2 separate regions of the Homo sapiens genome follow, and region 1 is linked to region 2. The links come from fine-mapping of genetic effects on gene expression. Tissue or cell type: whole blood. Region 2 holds a variant in brackets; the other region holds the start of a gene. Each region is shown on its reference strand, or each on the opposite one. Region 1 holds the start of RPL18 (ribosomal protein L18). Region 2 overlaps SETDB2-PHF11 (SETDB2-PHF11 readthrough).

Region 1 (5,372 bases), not on the chromosome of region 2:
GTGCTCAGTCTTTTTCGATGTTAATCTGACTGGGCCAGTGCACCTAAATAATAAATAATAAGTATCCTCCTCAACCCCTCAGTTTCTCTGATTCCTAAATTATCCCACTGGAACACCTGCCTGGAGAGAAGGTCTGAAATCACTTATGGAAGGGCTCCCAGGCTGGGCGCGGTGGCTCATGCCTGTAAGCTCAACACTTTGAGAGACTGAGGTGGGAGAATCCCTTGAGCTCAGGAGTTCAAGACCAGCCTGGGCAACAGAGGGAGACCTAGTCTCTAGAAAAAATAAAAAAATTGGCCGGGTGCAGTGGCTCATGCCTGTAATCCCAGCACTTTGGGAGGCCGAGGCCGGCGTATCACCTGAGGTCGGGAGTTTGAGACCAGCCTGACCAACATGGAGAAACCTCATCTCTATGAAAAATACAAAAGTAGCTGGGTGTGGTGGCGCATGCCTGTAATCCCAGCTACTTGGGAGGTTGAGGCAGGAGAACTGCTTGAACCCGGGAGGCGGAGGTTGCAGTGAGCCAAGATCGTGCCATTGCACTCCAGCCTGGGCAACAAGAGCGAAACTCCACCTCAAAATAAATAAATAAATAAAAATAAAAAAATTAGCCAGCCATGGTGGAGGCTACTTGGGAAGCTGAGGTGGGAAGATCACTTTAGCCCAGGAGGTTGCAGCTGCAGTAGGCTGTGATTGTGCCACTGCTTTCCAGCCTGGGCAAGAGTGAGACCCTGTTTTTTCTTTTTTTTTTTTGAGACGGAGTCTCACTCTGTCACCCAGGCTGGAGTGCAGCGCGATCTCGGCTCACTGCAACCTCTGCCTCCCGGGTTCAAATGATTCTCCTGCCTCAGTCTCCCGAGTAGCTGGGATTACAGGTGCGCATCACCATGCCTGGCTAATTTTTGTATTTTTAGTAGAGATGGGGTTTCACCATGTTGGCCAGGCTGATCTCGAACTCCTGGCCTCAGGTGATCCGCAGGCCTTGGCCTCCCAGAGTGCTGGGATTACAAGCTTGAGCTACCACGCCTGGCCTCCAATTTTTTTTTTTTTTTTTTAAAGAAAAGCTTCAGATTTTGTCTTTCCACAGTATGAGGATCTTGGCTTTTAGATGGTCCCTTACCTGGTCCTGCTGCTCCTCTGCTTCAAGGTGTCCATTCATCTGCTGGTCCTCTGCTCTGTTACATCAACGGGACCCTGGCCCTGGGTCTTAAGCCATAGTAGGCTGGTAGGAGCAAGGAGTCAGGTCTCACTGTCCTGGCCTGACCTTCAGCTCTGTGGAGGAGAGGTAAGTGAGGAGCAGCATTGACAGCCAACTGCAGGAGGCCCTTCCAGGCTCAATGTGCCTGAGAACCAAGAGGCAGGGGCCTCCCTGGCGGGTGGGGGGAAGAGTAGATAAGTCATTTTAATCACTGCCCCAGCCAGTCCATCTGGTTGCACACAATATGTATGCTATAATAGGAGTGAAGGCTAATTTTTATTGAGCACTTATTATGTGCAAAATATTGACCTCAGCAGTTTTATTAACTTTCATAATCCTGAAAAACACCCCTGTGTGCCAGGCCTGTTGTCATCCCCTTTTTGTCCATAAGGAGAGTAAGGCCCAAAGAAGTTAAGTGATTTTCCCAAGATCACAGAGAGGTTAAATGACTTGCCCAATCACCCCATTAGTAACTAGCAGAGCCAGGATTTGAATTTGGTTATAGCCTTGCAAGGCCCCATCTCACCATCTTTCTTTGCCACTACTTCTCCCTGGGTCTCCATCTCACCCCTCTTTCTAGGTCTCCTTCCTACCCTTTGGGCCTCCATTCCCCCCACCCCCAAGCCACGGAGTCTCCATTTTGCCTCCCCTATGAAACTCTGTCTCCCTCTTTCTAGGTCAGGGAAGGGCCATCTAGGGGCCGGGGGAGAAGGAGAAGCGGAACTCAAAGGATGGGAATACAGGATGCTATAGATTGAGGTGCAGCAAGATCATCTCGGGTTAGACCTTAAGTAGGACTTCCCAAGCAGCGGCTGCGCCTACGAAGTGCAGCGCGAGATCAGGGAGCGGTGAACCTGATAAGGAAACGCCCGAAGCGTGGGGTCGGAAATTTCCAGATGCCCCGACTAGCCCTGCCAGCCCCGCCTCCTCACCTCCAACACTGGGCCCGCCGGGTCCTCCGGGAGCCACTGAGAGGCCGTCGGCGTCGGGCCAGAGCGTCACCGCGCGACGCATCGTGCTAGCTACACGCATCTCGCTCCCAGATCCCTTTCTTCCGGAAAGCTATCGAGAACACGGCCTGGGTAGGGCCAGAGAGGCCCCCGACGTGCTGGCCCTTCCCTCTTGGACGTTGCGCTTGTTCCTGCGCTCTATGCTCTCTGCCGTTATCGCCCGGCTAGTCAGTCGTCCAACTCACCACAGAGAAGTCCGGATCGTGGTAGAGCGCCGCGTCGCACCCATGTGACGTCACGGCGGCGCCACTCGCTTGAGGCTTTCCCCGCCCACCCCAGCCCGTTCTCTCTTTCCGGACCTGGCCGAGCAGGAGGCGCCATCATGGTGAGCTCGCTTTGCGGCGTTCGGGGCTGGATAATCCGCTGCCATCCGCCGTGGTTTTGGGCTAGGGGCACGCTGGAGGGCGGCAGGGGGTCTGCGGCTGCCCGGAGGGAGCAATTCCCGATACTGGGGACCTACTCTGGGGGCCAGGAAAGCAGGGATGGGTCAGTCATAGCCTACCGCCCCCACTTAGTAGATGACCAAGTGGAGGTACTCGGAGGCTGATATGACTGGGTTTACAAAGCCAGGAAGTGGCAGAGCCAGGATTCCGACCCAGGTGGCTGGACCCGCAGCCACTCTTAGTTATTTGGCTTTGCTGCCTTTATCTGGACCTGTCACTTTCTAGTATGAAAAGTCGGGTTCGATGGGGGCCGCGGCGGGTGAGAGGATCGAGAGCCGAATAACTGGATTTGGGGACCAGGCAGGTCTCTGAGTCTCAGGCCCCTTCCCACCTTGTGATGGTTTTTGAGCCTTTGCCCCAGTGTCTGGCTGTTCGTTGGGTACACAGTAATCTCATCTGACAAGTTTGTGAATTTGGGAAGAAATAATTCACAGGAGATGCTCATCACGGGGTTTTGCACACAGTAAGTGCTGCATAAGTGGAGCTATTAAATAGTTCTTGTAATTGTCAACACAGTCTGAAAAACTTAAGTTGCTCAGAAAGGCAGCAGGGCGGTAGGAGCCTGGCGAGGCGGCTCACGCTTGTTATCCTAGCACTTTGGGAGGCCGAGGCGGGAGGATTCCTTGCCCAGGAGATCAAGACCAGCCTGGCCAATATTGTGAGACCCTGTCTCCACTTTAAAAACGATGTTTTAAAAAGACACTATTTGGTAAGGGTTGTTGGATTGACTGATGCTGTAGGAGAGGTGGTTCTAGTAGTATTGCTAGGTTCTGAATAAGGATTCGTTTTCATCATTACTGCCATTGGTTTGATATTTTTGGTTATCCCTCCGGGTATGGGAACCAGTTTTGATAACATTGTTGCAAAATACAAGTTGTAAAGAATTGACCTTTTTGTATTAAGTTAATATGATTGCTGTGTTACGATGTTTCAGGGTTCTGTGTGCCATGGGCTGAAGGCTTTGTAAACAGCCCCTTTTTACAGAGGGATCAGTGGCAGCCCACAGGTCTCCTGGTGGTGGGCCTGGGATTTGAGCTGGTGTGTTCAGACCTGGGCTTGTGTCCCAGCTCTCAGTTTCAGAAATAAGTAATAATTGGCTATGGTTGGGGGTAATTGGGTCCATGGTTGCCTCTTCACCCCCACAGGGAGTGGACATCCGCCATAACAAGGACCGAAAGGTTCGGCGCAAGGAGCCCAAGAGCCAGGATATCTACCTGAGGCTGTTGGTCAAGGTGAGGCTGGGCCCTGAGGTCTTTGGGAAGGGTCACCCCAGGTCTGACTTGCAGATCCTCCATTCTAGTGCTGGCACCAAGCTCCTCCCAGGGGCCTGCAGAGCAGTCTCGGGTCTCTGGTTCTGTTCCAGGGTCTCCTGCATTTGTATTTTCAGCCTCTAGGCTGTGTACAGCTCGGGAGTGGAGCCAGGATTTTCTAGGTCCTTGGCCAGGAAGGACCTGGGCCAGCTTTCTCCCTCTAGGTCGGTGGGTTGGGGGAAAGGGATAAAGATTATTTTAGTCCAGATCATCATGTGTTTGCCCCTTCACTGGAAGGCTGCGGGGGAGCAGGCTGTCCCAGCTTCTCACTGTCTTCCCGTCCCTCCAGTTATACAGGTTTCTGGCCAGAAGAACCAACTCCACATTCAACCAGGTTGTGTTGAAGAGGTTGTTTATGAGTCGCACCAACCGGCCGCCTCTGTCCCTTTCCCGGATGGTGAGTGGCTGGTCCAGAGAGCACGGTAGACCTGGGAGCCGCTGGGTCTTGTCTGTCTGGAAGGGAGGCAGGACTTGGAGCTCTGGGAGCAACCAGGGCATCAAGGGTTTGTCTCAGCCAGTCGCGAGCGTAGAGCTTGGACTGTTGGTTGGAACTGAGTGTCCATGGGCAGTGGGCAAGTCTCCTGGTCCTCCTCTCCTTCTCTTTGTGAGGTGGAGGTGTCCTGGTGGCTTCAGGAGATTGCCCCAAGTCATAACTGAGTTTTATGTCAAAGGCTCTGCTGAGGGAGGCCCTATTGAACAGTCTGCATTTTTTTTTTTATCTGGAGCTTTCCCCAGCTGGACCTGAGGAGAGGCCTGTGGGGTTTAAGGGGTGTGGTGTGAGTGGGGGGTCCCGTTAGAGGGCACAGCTGCCCTGGCCTGGGGATGCCTCAAGCGGGGCTGAATGTAAACACCAGAACAACTTACGACGTACATCCTCCCCACCCTAAGATCCGGAAGATGAAGCTTCCTGGCCGGGAAAACAAGACGGCCGTGGTTGTGGGGACCATAACTGATGATGTGCGGGTTCAGGAGGTACCCAAACTGAAGGTGAGCTGGCGGGGGCTGGGCAGACCCATCAGACCCTTGCTGTACTGTGCTGTGCTGTGCTGTGCTGTGCTGTGCTGTGCTGGTCCATCCTCAGTCTTGCCACCGCTGGTGAGGCAAGCATCCTGCCTGTCTGAGTGGCTTTGAGGATTGGTGTGGGTCGTCTCTGGCATGGTTGATGGTGGGGTCCCCTGGGCAAGCTTCTTCTGGGGCAAGTTGTAAACTGTTAGTGCTGGCCCCTAGAGCCAGACAGCCTGGGCTCAAGTCTAGACTCCTTTGTCACCTCTGCACAGGTCTTTTTTTGGCCCAGCTTCCTTGCTGTAGTTTCTAGCATAACACCAGGGATGTGGTGGTGAAAGTTCCGGAAGTGTTGAGAACTGCTGCTGTCAGCCCAGGGTGCTCCGGGTAGTAAACGATAGTGTTGGTT
Region 2 (5,372 bases):
TTCTATAAATGCAAACTTAAGAGGAAAATAATGACATGTATAGTATACTCTTGCCTTCCTAAATTATGACTGCTGAATCATCATATCTACTATATATGACTGGAAGAAGTGGTTCTTCAAGTCAACCCTCTTACAAGACTTAGTGGAATTTGCTTTATCTACTTTAGGCCAAATCCATCACACATTGGCTTATGTGAAACTTTATCATCTTTCACTTTTGGTTTTCCTCTGTTTTTAAACATCTTAGGTATAACAGCACAATTTCACCTTGAAAAAGCACCAAAATTATGGTGTTCCTGAAAAGATCCTATTAAAAGACAGTAGTTTATTTGAACTGGTTATGGAAGGTGACTTTGGGATGTAAGAGTGTTCAACTGTGAGTTTCATCATGTGTGTCCGTTGAGCTTGCTTTTAAGAGCAATGTTTTGCTTTGCTCTCTGGTCCATGAACTCATTTCCATTTGAGTGAGTTCCCTTAGTGAATTTTGTCTCCTGCTTGGAAAGTCTCTCTTCTGAACCTGGAGCCTGAATACATTTTCAGAGCCAAATTACAAGTGGGTGAAGACATGCTACAACTACTATTTTTAGCAATGTTTTTAAATTTGTGTCTATTGGGGTGGGAAGGGGAGTGAGGCCCTAAAGATAGGAATTCACTGATAGCTGAAATAGATACAAGCCTAGGAGCCCCAGCCCCCTTTTCTTGACCATATCACAAGTGATTGAAGCCCAGTGAATTAGTCGGTTAGAATTCGTTCTACAACATGATAGAACTTTTCTTACTAGCTTCAGAAATGCACATTGATTTGTGCTATGATGGGTGGTGTTTGTAACAATCACTGTTCTATAGGCTTATGATCTGAGCAAAATGTGAACTTCAGTATGTTTACTATTGCTCTTACTTGAAAACTTTTTTTCAAAAAAAGCACAAATTAAAGTAGTAAATTCATATCCATAGATAGTTCATTCATTCAACAAATATTTACCAAGTTCCTAATATAAGTGAAGGACCACTTCTCATATTAGATTACTAAGTCATTTGTATGAATATGTGTGGCAGTGAAGAGAACAGGTCTTTCAAAAAGCATTTGATTATTTTTTTTAAATACACTCTCTTATTTTTCTACTTGTTTTTTTGTTAATCATAGCAGGATATGACAACTCTTATTTGAATTGATTTTTTCATCTAATGTAATAATGGAAGCCAAAGTATTCATATTTCTTAAGATAGCCCTAAATGTACTCTTGAACTTCTTACTGGAACAATGTTTGATACTCTAGTATGTAAGCTGTATTTATGTAATATTTAGAACGACATGTTAATAAACAAAGTAACATTAAAACAGGCACATAGAGTTGTTTTTTTCCTTCAAAATCAGTAGTCTGCAGCCTTAAAAAGGAAAGAAATTCTGACACATGGTGCACAGAGGTGAACTTGAGGATATTATGCTGGGTGAAATAAGCCACTCACAGAAAAATACTATGTGATGCCATTTGTGTGATATACTTAGTCAAATTCATTGAGACATAGTAGAATGGTCATTGCCAGGGTCTGAGGGGAGAGGAGAATGGGGAACTTGTTTAATGGATACAGAGTTTCAGTTTTCCAAGATGAAGAGTCCTTTAGGTCAGGGGTCCCCAACCCTCGGGCCACAGACCCATATTCATCCCTGGCGTGTTAGGAAGAGGTCGCACAGCGGGAGGTGAGTGGCGGATGAGTGAGCATTACTGCCTGAGTTCTGCCTCCTGTCAGATCAGTGGCAACATTAGAACATTAGATTCTCATAGGAGTGCAAACCCTACAGTGAACTGAGTATGCAAGGGATCTAGGTTGTGTGCTCCATATGAGAATCTAATGACTGGTGATCTGAGGTGGACCAATTTCATCCCAAAACCATCCTCCCCACCCCTGACCAACCGCCCCATCCCCATGGTCCGTGGAAAAATTGTCTTCCACGAAACCAGTCCCTGGTGCCAAAAAGGTTGGGGACTGCTGCTTTAGGTGCATGGTGGTGATGGTTGCACAAAAATGAATGTTTAATGCCATTGAACCATACATTTAAAAATGATTGGGATGGCAAATTTTAGGTTATATATATATTTTACCATAATAAAAAAAATCAGTGGTGTGATTCTTAATGGGTATCAGGCTAAAAATAGGTACCAGCATGAACATGTCAACTGCTTGATTCTCAACTATACACAAACAAACATCATAGAAATCTTTGGATTTTATTCCTGCTGAAGGGTAGTACAGTTGAACTGGCACAGTAGAAAAATGTGTCTGTACCTTTGGGGGTACTTGAAGGGAAAGGCATATTCCCTATCCTCAAAGAACATATGAATTATTAGGAGAGAGGGAGATAGGTTTAGGAATTAACAACACAATGAGATACTTATAAAGAGCTTTTCATAACAGTCAGTGAGAGAAAACCAAATAGGATGATGTGGTTTGGCTCTGTGTCCCCACCCAACTTATCTTGAATTGTAATCCTCAGTTGTTGAGGGAGACCTGTTGGGAGGTGATTGGATTATGGGGGCGGTTTCCCCATGCTGTTCTCATGCTATTGAGGGAGTTCTTATGAGATCTGATGGTTTTATAAATGGCAGTTCCCCCTGGGCTTTGCGTGCTCTCACTTACTTGCCACTACGTAAGACGGGCCTCTTCCCTTTCCGCCACAATTGTAAGTTTCTTGAGACCTCCCCAGCCATGCGGAACTGAGTCCATTAAACCTGTTTCCTTTATAAATTACCCAGTCTCTGGTATTTCTTCATACCAGTGTGAGAACGGACTAATACAGTTAATAGGGTTAACATGACAAGCAGTTAGTTGTTCTGAAGATAAC[G/A]CTTGTGTTGGATAGGGGAAAATATAAAGTGTCCTTTTAGCTCATCTCCAAAACAAAAAGAGGCACAAGAGATGGGGGCTAATGAGCCTTCCAGAGCTTATCATAATTAAGTTTGGTTAGAATGGAGAAAATAAGACAGAAATGTTAGCAAGGGGAGTGTGTGCGTGCATGGGTGTGTTTTAACATTTATTTCCCATAGTGCCAGACATTGTGCTCTCTGCTTCACATTTTACTTACTTGTCCATATTTTGTCCCATAAGGTAGGCAGCAGCATTCTCAGATTAAATAATCGGATTCAAGTTTTTCAGTAGTGACATAGCTGAAGTTCATACTCGGCTCCGCCTTATGAACCCATACTCGGGTTTGCCCAGTAGCCAGCCTCATGGCCACCAAACACATGGTGCTCCATGGTGCACAGTTACATGCTGTGTGAGTCACAGGTTAAACGTGAAAGTAAAGTGGGGGACAAAGGTTTTTTTTTTTAAATAAAGATCATGACATCAGAATGATTAGTCAGATAAACTTTGCTAAGATGGCTGGGCGTGGTGGCTCACGCCTGTAATCCCAGCACTTTGGGAGGCCGAGGCAGGCAGATCACGAGGTCAAGAGATCGAGACCATCCTGGCCAACATGGTGAAACCCCATCTCTACTAAAAATACAAAAATTAGCTGGGCATGGTGGTGCGCGCCTGTAGTCCCAGCTACTTGGGAGGCTGAGGCAGGAGAATCGCTTGAACCTAGGAGGCAGAGGTTGCAGTGAGCCGAGATCACACCACTGCACTCCAGCCTGGCAACAAAGTGAGACTCCGTCTTAAACAAAACAAAACAACAACCAAAAACTTTGCTAAGACTTAATATCAGGATAGGAAGCTGAAGCTACAGTAATCAATAATCATCTAGACTAGCGGAAATCTGTTCAGAGGGTGTTGGATGGGGTCTTCACTTCTGTAGTTTTTAAAGTGCCCCACATGATTCTGATGTGCGGCCGGATTTGAAATCCACTGGTTTAGATTTTGTCCCTAAGATATAAGAACTTAGGCTAGGGCTGCCATTACAACTGGAATGGACTGTTCTTTTTCATCTCCTGCAAATATTTTTCCAGTACTTATTTATTACATGTCAGACACCATGCTTGGAGACTCAGTTAAAACCCATTTTGAGACGCAGCATTATTGAAAATCAGAGTACCATGGTAAAAAATGAGAACTGTGAATGTTAAGTTTTCAGGGGTCAGACGTGATAGTGTGGGCATAAAAACCAGAATCGTATATTAGATTGAGAAAAATGTAACTGTCAATTTTTTTTTTCATTCTTGCATACTCCCGATAATGTTCTTATTCAGAGTCCAATTTAAAATTTAGGTGTCTGTTTTGAAGATGATGAATCTCCACGTGATAACTGTGGCTGAAAAGAGACTTTTCAAAAGCAGACTTTGTGACACGAAAACAGGCAAATTTGGTACAAGTAAAGTAGTATAATCCAAATTTATTATATCTAAGAGGCTATCATGGGCTGTAAGTAGAATCAAAGGTTAAGAACATTTTATGCACTTATTCCACAAACATTTACTGAGCATACTAGGTGCTGGGAATGTGACAGTGAGCAAAAAACACAAGAGTGTGCAAAGAGTGATCAAAATGTCAACCAGTAAGAACAGGGAAGAGCTGCTGAGGCCAAGAGGAGACGACTAGTTCTAAAGATGTGTGGATTTCACAGCCTGGTCTCTGGTTTTGAGCCTGATTGCAATTTGACATGACTCTTGGCTTAGGAAACGGTAATCCCTAATAAGACAGGGATGATATTGATGTAGAACTTGACATAAGATCTCTATTTTCTTGAAAAGAGCACAAGGTTTGTTTTAAGTCCTGAAGTAGCTCAATCTCTTCCTTCAACTGCTGCCACCTTTGTTGAGATGCATGAATTTTTTTCTCTATTGCTATGAAAAGAAGAAATAAAATTATTTCAGCTTATTCAGTAGTTTTATTAGAAATAATGTACCATTTCTAGCCCCTTTCACTTGCAGGTACAGATACACAATCCTCGTGCCTCTGGTGAAAAGGATCCAGAGCCTTATGGGCAGGAGCTGGTTTCTTTATGCCTTCACTTCCTCCTTCTAATTCAGGACAGAATTCTAACATTTATCATACACAAAGCTGTTCAGTAAACCCTTAAGATTTTGTGCACATTTATAGCAGAACAAGTCCCTTTGTATATCTTTGAGAACTTGAAAACAGTGACTGTATAACCTTCATGCTATACTATATCCATTTATTGAGAGATGATAATTGGAGAATGTGGCTAGAATACCAAGGTTAAGGACAAATCCTTCCTAAAAATGTGTCCAATTTTTAATGTTACATAAAGGCTTTTGGTTTCATTTAGAAATAGGAAGGCTTTTAATTGTGGAAACTTAGAAAAGCTTAGGAGGAAGATACTTAGGCTTTATAAATAACAAATAGTAGTCAATGGCAATGTAATTTTTAAAAGCCTCAAAATCGAACAGTTACACACATATACAAACTTTATTCAG

What was found.
Region 1: RPL18 starts here. The variant in region 2 is fine-mapped to the expression of RPL18 in whole blood (TOPMed, PIP above 0.99).

What each region holds. Positions count from the first base shown.
Region 1 is chr19:48,616,302-48,621,673 of GRCh38, reverse strand. It overlaps RPL18 (ribosomal protein L18), which reads left to right and starts at 2,496. Exons shown (of 7, transcript NM_000979.4): 1 at 2,496-2,533; 2 at 3,797-3,883; 3 at 4,251-4,358; 4 at 4,850-4,948. The coding sequence starts at 2,531. It overlaps SPHK2 (sphingosine kinase 2), which reads right to left and starts at 2,168. Exons shown (of 7, transcript NM_020126.5): 1 at 2,131-2,168; 2 at 1,121-1,272. The coding sequence starts at 1,159. RefSeq lists enhancers at 1,825-1,914, 2,075-2,754, 3,025-3,855, 4,688-5,372.
Region 2 is chr13:49,527,917-49,533,288 of GRCh38, reverse strand. SETDB2-PHF11 (SETDB2-PHF11 readthrough) reads right to left here. Exons shown (of 21, transcript NR_135324.2): 21 at 4,313-4,778. It overlaps PHF11 (PHD finger protein 11), which reads right to left. Exons shown (of 10, transcript NM_001040443.3): 10 at 4,313-4,778. The coding sequence ends at 4,624. RCBTB1 (RCC1 and BTB domain containing protein 1) reads left to right here. Exons shown (of 13, transcript NM_018191.4): 13 at 1-1,343. Among named protein-coding and RNA genes, the nearest start is that of PHF11, 35 kb to the right of the region's middle. The variant G/A (reference allele first, on the strand shown) is at 2,843.